Linked DNA regions of Homo sapiens. The protein of the gene in region 1 purifies or fractionates together with the protein of each later gene. This does not show direct contact. Each region holds a gene or a part of one and is shown on either strand. Other genes may lie near its edges.

Evidence for each region.
Region 2: the proteins of SLC30A9 (region 1) and KCTD9 purify together in Homo sapiens (affinity purification with western blotting; one study listed by BioGRID). This does not show direct contact.
Region 3: the proteins of SLC30A9 (region 1) and PCDHGB1 purify together in Homo sapiens (co-immunoprecipitation; one large-scale study listed by IntAct). This does not show direct contact.
Region 4: the proteins of SLC30A9 (region 1) and VSIG1 purify together in Homo sapiens (co-immunoprecipitation; one large-scale study listed by IntAct). This does not show direct contact.

What each region holds. Positions count from the first base shown.
Region 1 is NC_000004.12:42,073,192-42,079,024, forward strand, and holds part of SLC30A9 (proton-coupled zinc antiporter SLC30A9, mitochondrial), read left to right. Parts: intron 1-2,465; coding exon 2,466-2,595; intron 2,596-5,020; coding exon 5,021-5,134; intron 5,135-5,833. UniProt on the Homo sapiens protein: Mitochondrial proton-coupled zinc ion antiporter mediating the export of zinc from the mitochondria and involved in zinc homeostasis, zinc mobilization as well as mitochondrial morphology and health.
Region 2 is NC_000008.11:25,443,974-25,449,806, reverse strand, and holds part of KCTD9 (BTB/POZ domain-containing protein KCTD9), read left to right. Parts: intron 1-136; exon of another isoform or gene 137-284; intron 285-3,556; coding exon 3,557-3,678; intron 3,679-5,471; coding exon 5,472-5,515; intron 5,516-5,833. UniProt on the Homo sapiens protein: Substrate-specific adapter of a BCR (BTB-CUL3-RBX1) E3 ubiquitin-protein ligase complex, which mediates the ubiquitination of target proteins, leading to their degradation by the proteasome.
Region 3 is NC_000005.10:141,355,328-141,361,160, reverse strand, and holds part of PCDHGB1 (protocadherin gamma-B1 isoform 1 precursor), read right to left. Parts: coding exon of another isoform or gene 3,498-5,833; exon of another isoform or gene 3,428-3,497; intron 1,168-3,427; exon of another isoform or gene 1,026-1,167; coding exon of another isoform or gene 1-1,025. Other genes in the region: PCDHGB2 (protocadherin gamma-B2 isoform 1 precursor), read right to left, coding at 1-1,025; PCDHGA4 (protocadherin gamma-A4 isoform 1 precursor), read right to left, coding at 3,540-5,833. UniProt on the Homo sapiens protein: Potential calcium-dependent cell-adhesion protein. May be involved in the establishment and maintenance of specific neuronal connections in the brain.
Region 4 is NC_000023.11:108,050,435-108,056,267, forward strand, and holds part of VSIG1 (V-set and immunoglobulin domain-containing protein 1 isoform 2 precursor), read left to right. Parts: intron 1-5,833.

The DNA.
Region 1 (5,833 bases):
GTCTCTAGTTATTGTTGTTGTATTAGCTCTTCCTCCCTTCATTTCTTCTTGGTTTTGGCATCATATATTTTGGTGCTCTGTTGTTGCTACATACATGTTTATAATTTTGTATATATTGTTTAATAAGTAATGTCTAAAAAAGAGCTATAAACTGAAAGACTGGCAAATTCGAAATTTTGTGGAAGAGTGAATATCTGTGGATTCAATTATTGGAAAAAATACGTTAGTAATCCAGAAAATTCATACAATTTTTTTAAACAGTATATTAGTTACCTACTGCTGTGTGACAAATTGGCCCAAAACTTAGTGGTTTAAACAACATATTACCATCTTACAGTTTCTGTGAGTCAGGAATCAGGGCACAGCTTATCTGGGTCTTCGACTTCAGGGTTTCTCATAGACTGTAATCAAGGTGTTGACTGGGATTATAGTCATCTCCTGGGGAAGGGGCTGCTTCTAACCTTACTCACATGATTGTTCGCAAGATTTAGCTCCTTGCCAAATGGGCCTCTTCAACATGGCAGCTTGCTTAATCAAAGCGTGCAAATTGATAAGGCAATAGAGAGCGAGTGTGAACAAGACAAAAGTCACAGGTTAGTCACCTGGTCTTGGAAATGACATCTCATCACTTTGCCATATTTGGTAGTTATAGCCCACATTCAGTGAGAGGAGATCACACAAGGGCTTGCGTATAGGTGGCAGGGATTGATCATATGGGAGCCCTCCAAACAGTTTTCTGTCTGTAGTTAGTTATATGTAAGAACATAAGGAAAAAGTATATCTAAATATATTTATTAGTTGCTACTCACATACCAGCCAAATAATGAAATGTGTTTATACTCTGTGAAGACTAAAGTAGAAATGATTTTTGAAAATGAATAAATATGTTCTGTGAGTTACCAGGAGAGAAAAAAAAAAGAATAAATGATATAGCCTTTTGCCAATCTGAAAAAGTTTTGTTTTAACTTGAGCACATGTAACTATAAATATTAAAACATTAATTCTTATTTCATCCTTGATGGTTGATTAAAATATAGCTTCCTTATATGGATAAAAAATTTTGGACTCAGTGTTTAGTAACCTGCTCAGGATCCCTCAGAAATTAGGGTCTAATGTTGTAAGAATACTTGGAGTCTTACGTAGGCTTGTTTTTCTAGTAAATCTCCATGTCCTCAGAATTCAGAGTGTTTTGTTATTTCTTATATGTGCTGTACAGAAAAGATCTTACAGTGATCACTGTAGAAAGAAGAGAATTTCTCAGCAGTTTCTAGGGAAGATTGTTTACTGAGGGTTAGAGCAGGAGGGGTGAAAAGTAGTTATGCTTGAGTATCTGCTTTCCTGTCTGGGAGGCAAAAGGGTATGATGCAAATACCACTGGGCTTGCATTTCTGAAGAGCTGGGCTGGGGAGTCCTAATCTGCTGTTTACTAGCTAAATTACCTTGAGCAAGTCACTTATGCCACTCTAGGATGGTTTTATCATGTATAAAATAAAGATGTCACCCTATCCACTTATGAAAGCCATCCATTAAATGCCTGCCTTATAGTTCTTACTGTATTAAACATTTTATATATGTATTAGCTCATTATTCCTCACATCAAGTCCCATGTGGCAGTTATTATTAACCTCATTCTAATAGAGAACTTCACAGCATTGTATGAAGACTTTTAAAGAAGCTAGTGAACATACAATTGGTTAATATACTCTACAACACCATTATAAATTAAAACAAATTTTTATATGGCATTTAGGAAATTGATAAGTAGATATATGGAGACAAAGGCTTATGAGATAACATGACATTTTAGAAAATTGATTTAGAGTTAATGAATATATATATATATATATATATATATATATATATATATATTTTTTTTTTTTTTTTTTTTTTTTTTTTTTTTGAGACAGAGTCTTACTCTGTTGCCCAGGCTGGAGTGCAGTGGCACAATCTGGGTTCACTGCAACCTCTGCCTCCCAGGTTCAAGCAATTCTCCTGTCTCAGCCTCCTGAGTAGCTGGGATTACAGGCATGCACCACCATGCCTGGCTAATTTTTGTAGTTTTAGTAGAGACAGGGTTTCACCATATTGGCCAGGCTGGTCTCAAACTCCTGACCTCAGGTGATCCTCCCTGCTCGGCCTCCGAAAGTGTTGGGATTACAGGCATGAGCCACTGCGCCCAGCAGAGTTAATGAACTTTTAATACATGAGCTTTATAATTCATAAATTACCATAAAATAATATTTGTTAAGTTTGCACCTTTGTATGATATCATGCCAAAAAAAAAGCTAAACGGACAGGCCTTGGAAAATGATAGGTGGTACTTAATGGTGAATACTCTGAAGCCATCTTAGTCCATTCTCGTAACTAGTGGGGAAAAAAACAATAATTCAAGCCTTTGTGCTATTAAAGTATATATATGTGTATGTATGTATAAATAAATTTGTATGCATTGTTATTGATTGCAGGGCAATTCATGATGTTAAAGCCACAGATCTGGGATTAGGTAAAGTAAGATTTAAGGCAGAAGTAGATTTTGATGGGCGAGTTGTTACAAGATCATATTTGGAAAAACAAGATTTTGACCAAATGTTACAAGTAAGTTTATTTGTTGTTTTCTTACATAACTGAGGGTTAGAAAAATGCTTTTAAGGTAAACAAAATGAAATTTTTTTTTATAGATCTTAAAGGCACTTTAGCTCTCAACTTCTTAGGTTCCAAAATTTAACAGAGACCTTTATATTTACTATGGAGGGGTTCAGAGGAGACAGCAAAAGAACAAACTTACTATTTCATGCTTGCTATGTGCATTTAATCTTTTTTTATCTAATTTACCCTCAACAACCCTGTTATTTCAACAATGAAATAACATTTTTATTTTAACATATATAGAAATTGAAAGACAGAGATTAAGTAATTTGCCTTAAGTTGTAGTGCCACAGAGATGGAGTCATATATGAATCGAGATCTGCCTGACTCCAGAATCCATTTTTTTATTAAGAATAGTTTAAAAGAGAATTTATAAAACAGAATATAATGAACAGCACAGATGTTACCACTTGCCCCTGTCAAATCTTAACATTTTGCTATAGTGTATTTGCTTAAGGTCTTAAAAAAAGAAATAATTACAAAAACAATTCAAGCCCCCATTTTCTCTTTCTATATCTCATTCTTCTTCTTCCATCCCTAGAATTAAACATTATGCTGAATTTGGTACCTGTCTTTTCCATTCAGATTTTTATACTTTTCAGCATTTTTTAGTGTAATATGTAACATTTTGAATGTTTAAAAATTGGTATAAATGGTATCCTACTGTATGCGTCTCTACAATTGGCATAACAACATATTTTTTAGATTCTTCCGTGTTAATTTATATATCTCTAGTCAGTTTACCTTCATTGTTATAGAGCATTTCATCCTATGAATATGCTGTAATTTATTTATTTTGTCTCCAGTTGATGGACATTTATATTACTGTTAGAAACAATGCCATGGCCGGGCGCGGTGGCTCACGTCTGTAATCCCAGCACTTTGGGAGGCCGAGGTGGGCGGATCACGAGGTCAAGAGATCGATCCCATCCTGGCCCACATGGTGAAAACCCGTATCTACTAAAAATACAAAAATTAGCTGGGTGTGGTGGTGCGTGCCTGTAGTCCCAGCTACTCGGCAGGCTGAGGCAGTAGAATCGCTTGAACCTGGGAGTTGGAGGTTGCAGTGAGCCTAGATCGTGCCACTGCACTCCAGCCTGGGCGACAGAGCGAGACTCCGTCTCAAAAAAAAAAAAAAAAGAAAGAAACAATGCCATGATTGCATTCTCACACGTTTCCTTGTTCACATATATGAAAATTTCTTTAGTATGGTGTATATATAGATAGCTAGATTTTAAATAGGTGGGCCATTGGGTGTACTTACCTTCAGCTTGCCTAGGTCTTACCAAGTTATTTTCCAAAGTGTGTCAATTTAACTTCCATCATTGTATATCAAGGTTCTTGCTTCCTATTCTTACATGATTGTATTAATAGAGTTATTAAATTTTTGCCAGTTTGATAGGTGTGAAATAGTATCTTGTTCTAATTTTATTTCTTGGAGCATTGAGGTTAATAAACATTGAAGTTCATTGACCAGTGGGATTTCCTCTACATTGCTCCCTGATTTTTCATGTTTTAAGTTCATTTGCATTACACTTATAGATTTGAAAGGTCTTTATTTTATTGCATTGTATTATTATTTTTTGAGACAGAGTCTCGCTCTGTCACCCAGGCTGGAGTGCAGTGGCGCGATCTTGGCTCACTGCAACCTCCGCCCCCCAGGTTCAAGCAATTATCTACCTCAGCCTCCCAAGTAGCTAGGATTACAGGTGCCTGTGACCACACCCGGTTAATTTTTCTATTTTTAGTAGAGATGGGGTTTCACCATCTTGGCCAGGCTGGTCTTGAACTCCTGGAAAGGTCTTTATTTTTAATATCCTGGATGCTAATTCTTACTTGTATATATGCAATTATTTTTTTCTAGTTTATAACTTCCTTTTCTTTTTGTTGTTATACAAAATATTTAATATGATTTTTAATTTTAATGTGAGATTTGTAATCTTTTCCTCTGTGCTTTTTATTCTTTTGCATGAAAAATCCTTCCATATCCCATTATCATAAAAATATTCTCTTCTCATCTAGTAGTTTTGTGGTTTGTTTTTTACCCTTATGTCTTTCATCCACTTTGAATTATTTTAATGGTCTGACATAGGGATTCAATTTTTTTTTCTTAAGGGAAAATATTCTAACACTATTTATTGACTATATTATTTCCCCAGTAATTTTGTAGTGCTACCTCTGTGTAGTATTATACTCAGTTTTCTTGATCCGAATTGTTTTGGAAATAGGTAATCCATTGCCTGTGGCTTAAAGTTTTAAAAATGTTCATTAAACTTAATGGCGTTTGTTATAGGTTTGTTTTTTTTTAAGGAGTCATAAGTGTACCACTATGGTTTTTTAAAAATTTATTTTCCTGTTTTCATTTTCTTTATAGGAAATTCAAGAAGTGAAAACTCCTGAAGAACTAGAGACCTTTATGCTTAAACATGGAGAAAATATTATTGATACTTTAGGAGCTGAAGTAGATAGACTTGAGAAGGAACTGAAAGTAAGATGTATTCATAAAAATAACATAATGATAATGGCAGCTATTTTTTTGAGTACTTACTCTACAGCAGACACTAAGTGCATCCATCACATGCATGCTTTAACCCACTCATAACTCCACAGTGTGTAGGTATTTATAAGCAAGAAAATGACTGGGTTAGATAAGTTGAATAATTTACCCAAGGAAATAGGGAAATTGTGATTTGAACCAGATTCTTTACTTTTAAACACTATTTTATGCAGCCTGCTTAGTTTCTAAAATAGTCAAAGGGGGTTTTTTTGTTTGTTAATAAATAAGCATTTTGAAAGTTCCTAGAGAAAGATGAAAAGGAAACTTTAGACTGTGGTCAAAAGTTAGAAAAAATAGAATGTATATCTTGCTTTTAGCCCATTTGAAATTATTTTCTGTTTTTGTTTGTTTCTATTCAGTTGGATGTTATTGTAATTTATTGATTATGTTACTGAAATATTACCTGATCCTGATCAGGTTGTCTTTTAAAATGTCTCAGTGTTCTCAAATTGCCATTTATTGACATTTGAATTCTGTTTGCAATGAATAAAAACTTGTAAATGATCTTTAATGTATATAATTTGTTGAAGGCAGTGCTTTTTCTGCAGTTGATATTGACCATTCTTTAATTTTGTAAAAAATTGAAGAAAAAAACTTCCATCTCTACTTTTCAAGTTTTCCTTTGAGAAT
Region 2 (5,833 bases), on another chromosome or scaffold:
GGCACTGTCTAATAGAACTACTGAGATGATGGAAATTTGTGCTATTCAATATGGTAACAATTAGCCAGTGTGGCAGTTGAGCACTTGAAATGTGGCTAGTGTGACTGAACTGCATTTTAACTTTTAATTTTAATAGATTAAAATTTAAATAGACTCATGAAGCTAGTGGCTTCCACACTGGACAGCACAGCTTTAAAACATGGCAGGTGGCCTTTATTTTCATCGGAAGACAATAGACCCACAGAAAAACCAAGTCAATCATATGGAAGTAGACGACAATTCAAGTTAGTGTATTTTGAATAAGTCATATAAGATCTTAAGCTATAATATTACATTAAGTATTAAGCATAATACAGGCAGGTGCATTCAACTTGCATCTATTTTTTGGTATGGCCAAGAGAGAACAGTGAAAGAGATGCTGAGAGAGAAAGTTGATGTTAGGGCAAGGAGGGGATATCAGGCAAAAGAAAGCCATACTGAGATGTAAGAGCCAGAGGTAAATAAGAGGGAAAAGAAAGATTTAGAAAATTCTTTGTATGATGGCAACTATGCCAAGAACATTGAATTGGGAAAGAGGTGCTTGTGCTTCTTACCCTCTTTTCACAGCACCTTCTGACTGCAGGAGTTGTTTTGCATCTGCTTTGGTCAATCTCTTGCTCCTTTGCATGTTTGCTTCTCTCTTCTCTGTCTTTACTCTCTTCATGCTCTTTGCCTTAACACAACCCCAGCTTTGCCGTGTGCAATGCCCTAGGTACTGTATTTCGCTTCGCTTTGTCCCAGGAATGTGTATAATGCAATTACAGAATACCTCACTGTGTTGCAGAGGTGAACAATCATAGGAAATATGGGGGACATGTTTTAGTCAGGCTTTTTTTTCTTTTTTTTTTTCTTGGAGAAGGAGTCTCACTTTGTCGCCCAGGCTGGAGTGTGGTGGTGTGATCTCAGCTAACTGCAACCTCTGCCTCCCGGGTTGAAGCAATTCTCCTGCCTCAGCCTCCCAAGTAGCTGGGACTACAGGCACACGCCACCACGCCCGGCTAATTTTTTGTATTTTAGTAGAGATGGGGTTTCACTGTGTTGCCCAAGCTGGTCTCGAACTCCTGAGCTTAAGCAATCCATCCGCCTCAGCCTCCCATAGTGCAGATTTTACAGGCGTGAGCCACCGCGCCCAGCCCTACTCAGGCTTTAATTATTTATGGCAAGCCTGCTGTGTGTAGGACACTGTGCCAAGTGCTTTGCAGTATTTTTTTTATTGTGATAAAAGATGGAACAAAATTTATTATTTTAACCATTTTTTAAATGTGTAATTCATTGACATTGTTTACATTCACAATGTGTGTAACCATCACCACGGTTTATTTCCAGTACTTGGTCATCATCCCAAACAGAAATTGTAACCATTAAGAAATAAGTCTCCATTCCCATCTATGCCTTGGTAACCTTTATTCTGCTTTCTTTCTCTATGAATTTGCCTGTGTTGGGTACTTTCATGTGAGTGGTATCATAGAATATTTATCCTTTTGTGACTGGCTTATTTCATTTAGCATACTGTCAAAAAGGTTCATCCATGTTGCAGCATGTGTCAGAATTCATGTCTCTTCTCTTCTCGCTTTGCTTTCCTTTCCTTTTTCTTTATTCTTTCCTTTCCTTTCCTTTTCTCTTTTCTTTTTCCTTTCCTTTTTTCTTTTCCGTCCCATCATGTCCAGGCTGGAGTGCAGTGGCGTGATCTTGGCTCACTGCAGCCTTGAATTGGCAGGCTCAAGTGATCCTCCCATCTCGGCCTCCCAAGCAGCTAAGACTACAGGCATGTGCCTCCATGCTTGGCTACTTTTTGTATTTTTTTGTAGAGACCATGTTTCACCATGTTGGCCAGGCAGGTCTCGAACTCCTGGGCTCAAGCGATCCACCTGCCACAGCCTCTCAAAGTGCTGGGATTACAGGCATGAGCCATTGTACCTGGCCTCATTGTTTCTTATTGCTGAATAATATTCCATTGTATATATATACCATATTTTATTTATGCAATTACCTGCTTATGGACACTTGGGTTGTACATTATTTTTTATAATGCACTTGGTTCCGCTTAAATTTTTCTTGCCTTCAACACTTTCCAAAATGCCCCAGCACTCTTCTGGCTTTCATCCTTCTGATCCAAGAGAAAAAAGTTAGAATCTGAGTACTCTGCTTTTGAAAAACTGCACACTCGTATGTTATCGAGCAGCTTTTTCCATGTCCTCCATTTACTGTATTTATTTAACTAGAAACTGTCCACTCTATTCCAGTCACTGGTGGACAGAGGACCAGCCTTAGTGCTCACTTCATATGGCATCTTGACATAATAAATCTTGGGACGTCCATGAGCTAGCTGACTGTGCTTCGTGTTTAGCTCTTCACCTACTTATTTTTCTTTTTTTAGCGGGGAGACAGAGCCTTGCTTGGTCATAAAGGCTGGAGTGCAGTGGTGCAACCTTGGCTCACTGCAACCTCTGCCTCCTGGGTTCAAGCAATTCTCATGCTTCAGCCTCTGGAGTAGCTACAGGCATACACCACCACACCTGGCTGATTTTTGTATTTTAGTAGGGATGGGGTTTCTCCATGTTGGTCTGGCTGGTCTCAAACTCCAGGCCTTAAGTGCTCTGCCCGTCTCAGCCTCACAAAGTGCTGGGATTACAGGCATGAACCACTGCGCCCGACCCTTACCTAGTTTTTATTCCTAACTTTCAGAGGTCATAACTGATAATGGTGCAACTGCACAACTCAGTCGCTGGGAACCCATAGTTACAGTTAGGACCAGGGCACAAAATTCACTTACATGTAGAAATTCTCAGCACCCTGCTTAGACAGTTGCATGTATCTTGCACATATATCAGACTGCTTGATTCACAGCAGGACACATCAATTCATTGTCACCCAGCTGTTTGCTCTGTTCTTAAATGTTAGATGCTAAAATCTGGCTTAGTTAGTGAAGAATTAAATAAATGAGGTGAGAAGTTATCTTTTCTGTGGTAGTTGATGTCGTTAATGATATAATAAACAGTACCAGCACACTCCTGTTCTAAGGATGAACCATTCAAATAAATAAATAATAAAAGGACAACATAATAGGGACTTACTAGGTCTCAGGCACTTTGCTAAGCTCTTATGCATGAACTCATTTCATAATACCTTCTGAAGTAGGTGCTACTATTTTCTTCATTTCTAGTTAAAGCAACAGAAGCATCAGTAGGTTGACTCAAGTTGACAGCTAGAAAATGTCAGACTCTAGATCGAAGTGTAGGTCTATCTTACTTCACAACTGGAGCGCTATTTAACACACCTTAGGATTGTAGATTGTTTTGGTCAGAGATGATTTCTTATGTTCTAGTTGAGGAGTCGGCAATATTAGGCACCAAGTGAATAAATGAGTCATGGAAGAAAAGGGGGCACTGTTAAGAACCTTTTGAAGTCTCCTTTTATATGATAATCTTTTTAGCACTGTTCTAGTGTGGTAGTTTATAACTTATGGGGGATAACATGTATTAAAGAAATTGTTCATATTATTCTGGTGTGTTTACAGGTGGTTGCTGTATATGGAACTTTATCTGATTTGCTTTCTGTGGCCAGCAGTAAACTCGGCATAAAAGCCACCAGTGTGTATAATGGGAAAGGTGGACTGATTGATGATATTGCTTTGATCAGGTAACCTTCACCTTTTTATAAGCTGTCAACAGTGTGCCTCAACTTCTTGGTGCTATGCTGTTTCCCTTAAGCAGTAATTTAATCACTGTTAAGAGTACAGGATTTTGGCAAGTGTTTACCTAGAATTTGCTCTTTGGAATTTAAATCATTTGGGCTTAAGGTGAATTGATCAGCTAGAAAACCCTTAGTACATTTCAGTATACTGATAGTCTTTCTGCATAGTTCATATATAGCTATGAGGAATTTCTTCTTTGTGGTACTAGAGAAGGATCTAGTAAGACGTGCAGTTTTTAACATTAAAAATCTAATTCATCTCTTCACTTTTATATGCGCCTGCTTGTTAATCATTTCCTAAGAATGCTTTGCATTTTATAATCATTACAAAGGCCAGATTTTGTAAAAACTTTATAAATATGATAGAATTCTAAGTAGTGATATCACCAGTGATCCACCATAATTATAGGCTTATGTTTGTACCTTAAATATCTCAGGCAGATTTATCTCTTTAAAACAAGTGTGTAGTTCACCTTACTTCATCTTCATGAGGTCAGAGAATTTTGGAGCAGGAAGATGCTTAACAAAGAAGATGGTAAAGGGAACACAAATTAAGTATTGACTATGCCACTTATGTTATCATTGCTTTGCCTGAGTTATACCATTTAATTGGCAAAACATGAGTTTTTTTTATCAGTGATGTGAAGATAATGATGCTTTAACCTATAATGATATACAAAGTCTCTGTATAAATCTAGATCAAAATGACCTTTCAGTATAATATACTGCTTTGCAGTTAATCAGTTCTAGACCCTTCATTTTACAGATGAGGAAACGAATTACCTGTGAAGCTGAGGACTCACTCAGGTCATACAGCTAGTTGGGTTTTGTTAATGAAAACAGATTTTTATACTAATCTGAAAAAGTAAACTGGCATGGTGAACAAGTAGGAAATACTATACACTACATTTTAAATCCAAATAAATTAGGATAACTTCTTAGTTTTTCAATATGTATCTCCCAGCTTCTTTCAGTTTCTAAGGAAAACTGAGTCACATTGTTGGATGATGATCCTCATCAACCTAACTTTCTTCTTAACAAACACGAACTCTGCTTCTTAGAAAAATTTAACGTGTCCTGTGATGTCCTATAGGAAATAAAAACGTCTACAATGGAAGGTTATAATTGAAGCCTTCTGAGCTATAAGATATCTGTTTATTCATTTTTGGTTCACAATACAGTATCTGGGGTAATGGGTTGAGGAAGAGGATGTGCACTGATTGTCCAGAACTCTGGGTTATGTGCAGCCATTTACATTTGGGTGTATGGTGGATGTGTAGTGGGTAAACACTGACAGTAGAGTTACTTCCAGCTATATTTTTCCTAGATTTAATATGACAGTTTATTTCATCTCCAAAGCACACAACAGCTGATGATTTAGGGGTAAAAAATGTAAAGAAAAAAAGAATAGTTGGCTGTGACTTTAATCTATCCTTTCAGCATAATTATTCATTCTCAATTGATAAGAAAGCTGAACTCAACATCGTTTGTGTAAGGAGATTTTTTTCCCCACATTTCAAAAGTACTTTCATGTGCAAGATCTTATTTTTGAATTTAAATTCAAAGACAGTTAAGTTCAAGGGGTTAAACAAAGCATTGGAAACTTAGCTTCTTTGCAGTCTAGATTGATAGCAAAACCTATTGTCTATATAATTGTAAGGAATAGTTCCTATAAGCAACAGATAATTAATGTGATTTTTAGATTTTGATGGTAGCTTTTTAAATTTTGATTTCCCCAGGGATGATGATGTTTTGTTTGTTTGTGAAGGAGAGCCATTTATTGGTAAGTGACTTTAAAAGCCAATTTTATCTGCCAAAAAAAAAAAAAAAAGATGGAATGACAATTATTTTAAATGGGGCTATTAAGCTTAAACATTAAAAATGATCTTATGGCTGTATTCAAATCTTCACACTTTTTGATTCTGCATTGGGTATGTTAAAGTAAATTTTTTACTATATGATCGTAGTTTATTATAGATGCATGTTTTACATGCCGTTAAAATGCTCTGGAGGTATACATATTCATTAACTGTAACATAGTAAGGTAGTTTTGATCTTAGAAACAATTGTTTTGTTTGAAAATTTTTTCTTTGATGGTGAA
Region 3 (5,833 bases), on another chromosome or scaffold:
TCGTTGTCATCAAGAATTTCAACTTGGATACTGCAGTGGGCTGCTAGATCTCCAGGATCTTTTGCTTCGATACTCAGAGTGTAACTACTTGCAATCTCAAAATCCAAATCATCCTTTGTCGTGATTTCTCCTGTTTTTTCATTTAAGTTGAAAAAGTGTTTCACTTGTTCGTCCACATTATGAAAGGAGTAGGTGATCTCTGCGTTTATGCCTTCATCCCGGTCGGTGGCTGTCACTTGAAGCACAAAGAAGCCCGGCGGCACGTCCTCCCTCAGGGTGACCCTGTACACGTCCTGGCTGAACACTGGAGGGTTATCGTTGGCATCCGTGACTTTGATTCGGATTTGGGTCGTGCCACTTTGAGGTGGGTCTCCGCCATCCACAGCTGTGAGGACCAATTGATGTAAACTGTGCTCTTCTCTGTCCAGAGAGTGTTTTAGAATCAACTCAGGATATTTACGACCATCTGGAGTCTGTTTCTCAGCGAGATCAAAGTACTCGTTGTCATTAAGGTGGTATCTTTGTAGTGAGTTAGGACCAACATCTGAATCCAGGGCTGGGTCAAGTGGAAATGTTGTACCTGGCTTAGTGGATTCGCCAATTTTTAAATTAATCTTAGTCTGTTTGAATAGCGGGGTATTATCATTTATATCCTGCACAATTACTGCTATGTAGAAAATATTTAGTGGATTTTCAGCGACAGTATCGAAATCCAGAACACACAGAGGCTGCTTCCCGCATATCTGTTCTCGGTCTATTCTGTCACTCACAAGTAAGTCTCCGCTTTCTGGGTTTACTGTGAAATATTCCTTCTCCGCGCTAACCCGCAGCTTCCGGGCTGGCAAGTCCCGGACGCTGAGCCCCAGATCCTTGGCGAGGTTTCCTACGACCGAGTTTTTGGCCAGCTCCTCTGGAATTGAATAGCGGATCTGGACTGGGAGAGCCCCGGGGAACAAAGACAACAGGAAGGGCAACAGTACCTGCAGCCACCGCACCAGCCCGCACCTCCCTGAGCTCGCTTTCATCTTCTGGCTCCCTTTGCTCCTTTGCCCATAGGAGGAATAAGCCTTCCGGGGATGGCAGAATCCGGGCTAAGGTCACTTTTCCTGCTTTTGTTTTCTGTTTCCGAATCTATACTGGCCTTCTCTGTGTGGTTGGTTTGTGCAGGAAGTTCCCCTCTAAGAGGCTCCCAAACGCTTCTCTTCGTTCTTTTGACCAACAGCGACGCTCAGAGGTTTTCTCAGGAAACTGCACTAATGGCTTGTCAATATTTGCTAAGAACTTTTTTCTTTTCTTTTCTTTTTTAATTTATAAAGTCTTCATTTGTTTTAAAATATGTGAAATATTCATATAGTTCCAAATTCAAAAGATGCATTCAGCATAGGTTCTTCCTTTCATCTCTGCTTTAGATGAGGAGAAATGCTTTCACAGGGGAAATGAGTGTTAAAGTTTCTTAGGTATCCTTCCGGAGATATGTCTTGTATAGGGCAACGGATTTTTATAAATATTCTGTCTCCTTCTTTACACAAATGTAAGCATACAACATACCATATTCTGCACATTGCTTTTTTAGTTGTTATATCTTAAAGATCATATCAGTACATAGAGAGCTTTCCTATTTATTTCTTATAGTTATCTAGTGGCCCATAATATAGTTATCTAGTAGTCCGTAATATGAATATACAACAATTTGTTTAATCAAAATTGTTATTTGCTAAAAGAAACCCACTGCCCATTCTAACAAAAACACATTTTTTAAAAAATTTGATTTTAGGTTATAAATTATCTACTGCTTTCCTAGGCCTTTAAAACATGTGGCACTCTCATTCTGGAATATATTCCTAATGCCAACACCTGAATATGCTTGACACAGTTTCAGACCAATTGAGCATTTCCAAATTATATTTTATGGCTTAATTACTTTAAACAATCTCTCCTCAGATGTAAGTTGTCTCTCAACATTCACTTGTTATTTCTGCTTTCTGCTCCCCAAGCCAGGTAACTGCATCATATCATATTCCAGCTTACTCTATGTATTGCACCACAACTTTCTATGAATACAAAACCATGTAGAAACTAAAACTCTCCTTTGTAAGTCAAATTGAGGCATATTCCACAGTCTATCACTACAACTTCCAGTTATCAAATTACACTAATTTGTGTAAGCATATGCATTCATGAATTTTGAATTCTCACAGAACCTAAATGAAAGCACAAAGAACAAAAGTGTTGTATATCCCCTACACACAAAATATTTTCCCTCATATAAAATAATCCCAGAGCCACATGATGACAGAAATATCTGAAAGCAATTTGTAGCAATAGGGATGAGGCCACCTTACTAAGCAGCGTAAATCATATCAGTCCAGAACCCAAGTAACTCAACCTTTGAAAGAGGCTCACATGATGACAAGAGAAAAGACTCCAAAAACTTATATTTTCCTTGGAAATCAAGAAAGTCTCAATAGTGATGTCATGATAAGCAATTTAAAAATTATTAAAGTTACTCCTAGAATCTACTTATATATGACTGAAATTAGCTTGGAAATATTTCTCATAATCACAGGAGTGCACCAGAGGAATCACACATAGTCACTTCTGGTGCATCTCAGAACAGCAACAAGAAAATATTTGAAATATACCAGTTCATTGAGAAAATATCCTGTTAAAGTTATATCTAAAAGTTAAACTCACAAATTGCCAGTATTCTTAAATTGACGTTGCCTGTTATAATGGAAAATACCCTTTCAAGGAAGGAAAAGTAAACTTCAAGCAAAGCATGGTAGAGTGTGAAAATAGGAAATTAAAAAACCCTCAGTCCAGATCCAACAATAGCTTCATGAGAAAGAATATTGTAAATGTGAATTTACACAATTGCCTTCTATTTTACAGGTCTCTTGTATCTTTTCAGGAACACCTAAGAGAAAAGGAAATTTATTCTTTATTTTACTTTATTTTATTTTACTTTTTGGAGACAGAGGCTTGCTCTGTTGCCCAGGCTGGAGTACAGTGTCATGATCTCAGCTCATTGCAACCTCTGCCTCCCAGGTTCAAGCAATTCTCATGCCTCAGCCTCCAGGGTAGCTGGGACTACGGGCACACACCACCACGCCTAGCTAACTTTTTGTATTTTAGTAGAGACTGGGTTTCACCATGTTGCCCAGACTGGTCTCGAACTCCTGAGCTCAGGCAATCCGTCCTCCTCACACTCCCAAAGTGTTAGGATTACAGGTGTGAGCCACCACACCCAGCACAGAAAAGGAAATTTAAGGAAATGAGGTGGCTCAGAGTTGTAAAATTAGAAAATTCTGGCTGAAACTACAACTGAATGAAGACCAAAAAGGATAAGTAATAAACAACATTTTTGTGTGGTAAATACTGTTGATCATTATTGGAAGGTCATCCACCAGTTTTCTTTAAAGCAATAAAATATTAAAAGAGGCAACTTTATTTGATATATTACATATAAAATGAGAGACATTTACACAACTCTTTGTCTATATTTCAGTGTGGTATGATCTATTATAAGATTGACTCACCTGAAGATTAGGGTCTCCTTTTGTTTCAAGTAAATCCTGAGTTATCAGAAGAGGCTCGCTTTTCTCACAACTCTCCCGGCTGATGAGCGTGTCTGCATAGCTGGGTTGGGAGAAGATCAGGTGACTCTTCCGCGAGTCCGCGGTGAGGGAGACCTCGTGGGAATAGGTCTGCAGGAAAGCCCGAACCCCGTCCACGCCCACAAAGTGCGAGGCAGGCACACCTGCCAACCTGCTGCCTTCAGCGTGAAGCAGGCGTGACTTGTGCCAGCGTCTCAGCTTGAGTGCTAGCAGCACCGTGACAAAAGCCAGGAAGACGCAGGAGACAGCGGCCACTGCCACCACGAGATAGAGTGTGAGGCCCGAGTCGTCTGGGTCTGCTGAAGGCTTGAGGCTGCCCAAGTCAGCCAGGACATCTGGGATGCTGTCGGCCACAGCCACAGTGAGTGTGACGGTGGCCGAGAGAGGGGGCTGGCCATGGTCCTGGACGACCACTACAAGCCTCTGCTTGAGCGCGTCTCTGTCCAGCAGGGCCCGTGCGGTGCGCACCTCGCCTGTGTGCAGCCCCACTGCAAATAGTCCCGGCTCGCTGGACTTGAGTAGGCTGTAGGACAGCCAGGCATTCTGACCTGAGTCTCTGTCCACTGCCACCACTTTGGTCACCAGGTAGCCGGAATCTGCGGAGCGGGGTGCCAGCTCCACACCAGTGGAGCCATCAGTAGGGAAGGTGGGGTACAGGATCTCAGGGACATTGTCGTTCTGGTCCAGCACAAAGAGGCTCAGTGACACATTGCTGCTGAGTGGAGGGTCTCCACTGTCACTGGCTGTCATCAGCAGCTGCAGGTCTCTAAACTGCTCATAGTCGAAGGAGCAAAGAGCATATAGGATCCCTGTATTGGAGTTGATGGAGACATAGGAGGACAGAGGTGCACCCTGGAAGGTGTCTTCGGCCAGGGAGTAAGTGATTCGGGCATTGTCACCACTGTCAGGGTCTTGAGCAGTCATAGATAAGATGGAGGCTCCTCTGGGGTTGTTTTCAGGAATGTAAGCAGAGTAGGAAGCATGAGGGAAAGTGGGTGGGTTGTCATTGATGTCCATCACTTGCAGTGAAATATGAGTTTCTGTAGACAGTGGAGGAGTTCCCTGGTCAGTGGCAGTTACAGTGATGTTATATTCTGAGACTTCTTCCCTGTCCAGTGTTCTGTGTGTCAACAACCGATAATAATTTCCATAGGTCTTTTCAAGTGTGAATGGCAGATTATCTGGAATAGAACATGTGACTAGGCCATTTCCTCCTGAGTCACTGTCATGCACGTTGAAAAGTGCAATTACTGTACCCGGGGAAGAAGATTCCTGGACTGAGCTGGTGAGAGATGTAACTGTGACTTCTGGTGCGTTGTCATTTTCATCCAGAACTGTCACCAGTACCTTGCTTCTAGCTCGGAGACCAGGCCCATCATGGGCTTCTACATCTATGTCATAGAATCCAGAGTCCTCATAATCTAGACCCCCCAATATTGTTATATCCCCACTCAGAGAATTCAACTGAAATAGCTGTGATATTTTGTCTCTTACTTTCCGGAAAGAATACGTCACGTCTCCATTGGCTCCTTCATCTGGATCAGTGGCTTTTACGGTGAGTAGCCGAGTGCCTACAGGAACGTTCTCACGAACACTTACGTGGTACTCGGGCTGAGTGAACACGGGAGCATTATCGTTGGTATCCACAAGTATTATGAGAATCCTGGCAGTGCCAGAGCGAACCGGGTCACCTCCATCGAAGGCCGTGAGAACGAGGTGGTGAACCGCCTCTTCCTCGCGATCTAGAGCGCGTTCCAGCACCAGCTCTGGGTACTTAATCCCATCGGCCCCACTTTGCACGTCCAGGGAAAAGTAACCGTTTGAGTTGAGCTGGTAACCCTGCAGGGAGTTTACACCTACATCCGGATCAAAAGCTTCAGGAAGAGGAAATCTTGCCCCAGGATTTTCATTTTCAGCAACTTTTATTTCCCTCTGTTCTGTCCCAAAACTGGGTGGGTTATCATTAACATCGATTATTTCCACCTCTACCCGCAAAATCTTCACTGTATCTTCTAGAAGAATCTCCAGGTTTGTCACACAGTTTGGAGATCTGTCGCAGAGCTCCTCCCTGTCTATCCTACCCGCGGTGACCAAGGTGCCGCTGCGCGGGTTCAGGGCGAAAAGCTGCGTCCTACCTCTGGAGACGATGCGGACTCCGCGCTCCGCCAGCTCCCGGGGCGCCAACCCCAGGTCCTTGGCGATGTTGCCCACCACTG
Region 4 (5,833 bases), on another chromosome or scaffold:
TCTTCCAGTGCTTGCCTGCCAATCCCGTGACCCATCCTGGAGAACTTTTATAGTCTTCGACAATGCAATGCATAGCAACCAGTTAATAAGATAAGACAGTGACTGTATAGTGCTCCCCAAAGTGCCATCACCTAAAATAGCCCTTTGGAAAGTGCTCATATAGAACTGAGAATTTTAGTGTAGTGGCAGGCTGGATTTGGGTAGGGTGCCCTTCGGTGGGCCTCCAAATCCTATGGGGAGCTTAATTACTTCATCTTTCTGTAAGGCCAACAGTTCTCAAAATTTGTGGTCTCAGGACAATTTTACACTCTTAAAAACTGAGGGAGATTTCTGGTCTGGACATGTAGTACAGACCTGTTTTTCATTGTTCCTCCCTGCTAAGCACAAGTATAAACCCTGGAAATAATGCAAGAGACAACCAGGGTAGAACTCTGGAAGGTTGTAAGGAGAAGGCAAACTGGTTTGAGACCCAGGGAAAAACAAAGAGCAAGGGTATCCTATGTTTCCCACCCAGCAGAAGAAAGAAACCTAGTCCTGGCCATTCCTGATACCCAACTGAACAACAGAGGGCAGCCCAGGTAAGCTTACTCCTCCCTCAGAGTCCCTCTGACAACATCAGGTAGGCCCAACACCACAGGTAAGGGGGGATCTTCAGAAACCCCACCAACAACAGTGGACAAAAGAAGCATTTGCCTTCTCCCCAGGCCTGAGATGTCCCACTTTCACCTAGAGATATCGAGGTGGGAGGGTAGAACAGACACGAGGCATAAAGTGATGGCAAGCGGCCCAGTCTGGGAAGGCTCTGTCTCAGTGGGTGTATGACTGTCCTCTCCTACCCATAGAGACACCAACAGTGCAGGGCGCCAGTAGAAGTGTCCCACCATACCTACCCCAACTGAGAGGCACCTGGAAGCCTGACCTAGGGAAACCTTTCTGCTCCTTCAGGCGATATGATCTGGGACAAATGTCAGCCTCAGTGATATCCGATAAACCAAACAGAGCAAAACAATACTGAAAATTAAACTGCTGTTAGAACAACAGACCACAAAAGTAAGCCAACACCTGCTTGCATGTGAAGCATAAATAATGTGACTGACTGCAAAAATAAAAAATGTAAATATGAGTTTCCTAACATAGTAGACAAAATGTTCAATCAAAAATCATCTGTCATACCAAGAATCAAGTAAATCACAACTTGACTGAGAAAAGGCAACTACTGCCAACATTAAGATGAGTTCGATGTTGGAATTATCTGACAAGGATTTCAAAGTAGCCATCATAAAAATGCCTCAACAATCAATTAACATTATCTTAAAACAAATAAAGAAAAAAAAGGAAACTTGCAGAAAAGAAAAAGAAGTTATAAAAATATAAGAAAGAAGGAAATTCTGTCATTTGCTACAGCATGAATGAACCTGGGGGACATTATGCTAAGTGAAGCAAGCCAGACACAGAAAGACAAACACCACATAATCTCACTTATATGTGAGATCTAAAAGAGTTGAACTCAGAATTAGAGTAGAATGGTTACCAGGGACTGTGGCTTGGAGGGAGTGGGAAATGGGGAGAAGTTGACCAAAGGGTACAAAGTTCCAGTTAGACAAGAGGAATAAGTTTTTAAGACCTATTTTGCAGCATGCTCACCATAGTTGATAATAATGTATGTGCATTTCAAAACTGCTAAAAGCATAAGATTTTAGTCTACACATTGGGTACAGTGTACACTGTTCGGGTAATGGGGGCACCAAAATCTCAGAAATCACCACTAATGAACTTATCCACGTAACCAAACATCACCTGTTCCCCAAAAAAGTATTCAAAAAAATAATAGATTTTAAATGTTCCTGCTATGAAAAAAACAAAACGAAACAAAAGATAGGTAGGCCAGATGTGGTGGCTCATGCCTGTAATCCCGCCACTTTGGGAGGCCAAGGAAGGTGGATCACTTGAGCTCAGGATTTCGAGAAGAGCCTGGGCCACGTGGTGAAACCCTATTTCTACCAAAAATACACACACACACACACACACAAAATTAGCTGGGCATGGTGGCATGTGCCTGTGGTCCTAGCTACTCGGGATGCTGAGATGGGAGAATTGCTTAAGCCTGGGAGGCAGAGGTTGCCGTGAGCCGAGATCACACTACTGCACTCCAACCTGGGTGACAGAGTGAGACCCTGTCTGAAAACAAAACAAAACAGAACAAAAAACAAAAAAAAGGATAAATTACGTGAGGTGATGGATATGTTAATTAGCTCGATGTAATTATTCCACAGTGTATGCATATATTAAAATATCACATTGTATCCCATAAATATATGCAATAATTATTTGTTAATTAATTAAAATAAAAATTAAGTTAAAAACAAGAATTTAAAAAATACATACTTTGCAATTATCTACTATTTTTCTAAAGACCCTTACAATCTATAGGCTCTTTCTCAGTTTTCTTTTTTCCCCCTTGGAATTATTTTTTGAATAAAACTGGCTTGTTTGTCCCCTCCCCCCAAAAAACAAATATAAATTATAGAACTGTAAAATAAAATAACAAAAATGAAAAACTGGCTGATGGACTCAATAGAAGAGCAGAGATGACAGAAAATAGAATCCATATCTGGTGAAACTATCCTTCAGGAATTAAGGGGAAATAATTAAATTCTCAGTTGAAGGAAAACAAAAAGATTTGTTGCTAGCAGACATACTGTTAAAAAATAGCTAAAGGGATTTCTTCAAACAGAGAATAAATGATAAAGAGCAATCAGGAAGGATGAAAGGACAACAGAAAGAGCAGAAATGTAAGTACATAAAGTAGACTATCTTTTAACTCATGAGTTCTATAAATCATATTTGATAATTGAAGCAAAATTATAACACCATTTTATACTCTAGACAATGATATTTAAAAGTGGGGAAGGTAAAGGAAACTAAATGGAAGTGAGGTTTATACACTTCAATCAAAGTGGTAAAATATTGATATGAGTAGACTGTTATGACTCACACATGAATGTTGAATACCCAGAGAAACCACTGGGAAAACTCTACAAAGATATATATTTTAAAACACTATGAATAAGTCAAGATGGAATCATAAAAAATGCTCAAGTAACTATCAGAAAAGCAAGAAAAGGGAAACAGAAGAATAAGAACTAAAGGGAACAAACAAAAAACAAATAATAAAATAGCAAACAAGAATAATATATCAATAATTACATTAAATAATTATATTGAATGCGAATACCACTACAGTAGTCCCCTTTTATCTGTGGTTTTACTTTCTGAGGTTTCAGTTACCCATAGTACAGTATAATAAGATATTTTGTGAGAAAGAGTGTGAGTGTGTGAACACAATCACATAATTTTTACTCCAGTACATTGGTATAATTGTTCTATTTATTAGTAGTTATCATTGTTAATCTCTTACTGTGCCTAATTTATAAATTAAACTTTATCATAGGTTTGTGTGTATGGGGGAAAAATATATATAGTATACATAGAGTTCAGTACTATCCATGGTTTCAGGCATCCACTGGGGGTCTTGGAATATATCTCCCTGGAATAAGGGGGAACTACTCTATATGCTATTCACAAGAAACTCACATTAAATTTGATGACATAGGAAGATTGCAAGTAAAAATATAGAAAAAGATGTACCACATAAGTATTAATTTTTCAAAAATCTGGAGAAGCTTCATTAATATCTGATAAAATAGTCTTCAGAGCAAAGAAAGTTAAAAGAGATAAACAGAGACATTACCTAATGATAAATGGATCAATCCAGCAGGAGGATACAATGATCCTTAATGGGTACACACCAAACAACTATGTCTCAAAATTCATGAACAAAAACTGATCAAGCTAAAAGAAGAAAGAGACAAATCCACAATTATAGTTGGGAAATTCAATACCCCCTCTCAGAAATTGATAAATCTACTAGACAGAACATCAGTAAATATAGGGAAGATCTGAAAAAGACAGTCAATTAACAGGATCCAGTTGAATATTTTTACGATTTTATATTGGTTTTTCCATAGTGGTTTTAAATTATATCTCTTTGTATAGAAAACTCCACCCAACAACAGCAGAACACACTTTTTTTTGGCACCTACAGAACATTCACCAAGATAGATAATGTGCTTGGCCGTAAAACAAACCTAAACAAATTTAAAATAATTGAAATCATACAGAGTATATTCTCTGACTACAATGCAATGAAACTAGAAATCTGTAGCAGAAAAGTATCTAAACACGTGGAAATTAAACAACACTGTTCTAAATAATCCGTGGATCAAAGAGGAAATCTCAAAAGGAATTTTTTTAAAAATGCGTAGAACTGAATGCAAATGAAAACACAACATATTGAAATATGTACCATGTAGATAAAGCAATTCTGAGAGAGAAATTTCTAACACTAAATGTTTACATTGGAAATAAAGGAAGGTCTTAAGTCAATAACCTAAATTTCTACATCAAGGATCTAGAAAAGAAGACCAAAATAAACCCAAAGCAAGCAGAAGGAAGGGAATAATAAAGAGCTGAAATCAATGAATTTGAAATAGAAAAACTATAGGGAAAAATTAATAACACAAAAATTTGCTTTTCTGAAAAAAAAATCAGTAAAACTGACAAACTTCTAGCAAGACTAATAAAAAGAGTTAAGACCCAAATCACTAATATCAGAAATGAAATATGGAATATCACTATAGATCCTGCAGTCATTAAAAATATAATGAGAGAATATTATGAACAATTATACATTCATATATTTGACAACTTAGAAAAAAATTGGCCAATTTATCCAAAGCAGCAAACTACTAGAACTCACCCAATATGAAATGGATAATCTGAATAGCTCTATAACCATTAAAGAAATTGAATTCATAATTTTAAAAGCTCCTACAAAATAAATCTCCAGGCCTAGATAGCTTCAGCAAATAATTCTAGCAAACATTTAAAGAATTATTAAGATCAGTTTTACACATTCTCTTCCAAAAAATAGAACAGGAGGAAACACTTCCAACTCATTTTATGAGGCCAGTATTATCCTGATACCAAAACCAGACAAAAACAGTACAAAAATAGAAAACTACAGGCCAATATCTCTCTCATGAACTTTGACACAAAAATCCTTAGCAAAACACTAGCAAATTGAATCCAACAATGTATGAAAAGAATTATACACCATGACCAAATGGGATTTATTTCAGGTTTGTAAGGCTGGTTCAACATTCAAAAAGCATTCAGTGTAATCCACCATATCAACAGGCTAAAGAAAAAAAAATATGATCATATCAACTGATGCAGATAAAGCATTTGACAAAATCCAATACCCATTCATCATTAAAACTCAGCAAGTTAGGAATAGAGGGTGTATTTGTTTCCCAGAGCAGCTGTAACAAATTGCCACAAATGGGGTGGCTTAAAGCAAGAGAAATTAATTCTCTCACAGTTCTGGAGGCCAAATGTTTTAAATCAAACTGTTGGTTTCTTCTGAGGTCTCTGAAGGAGAATCTGTGCCATAAGTCTCTCTTAGATGGCTGCTGGCAATTCTCGGTATTCTTTGGCTTATAGATGCATCATTCCAGTCTCTGCTTCTGTCTTCACAGAGCCTTTCCCTTTGTGAGTCTCTGTGTTAAGCCTCCCTCTCCGTTTTCTTATAAGGACAACAGTCATTGAATTTAGGGTCTGCTCTAAATCAGTGATTATCTCATCTCAGGATCCTTAATTACATCTGCAAAAACCCTATTTCTAAATAAGGTCACATTCACATATACTGGAGGTTAGAAATTGAACTTATCTTTTTGAGGGACACAATTTAACCCCCTACAGAGGAGAATTG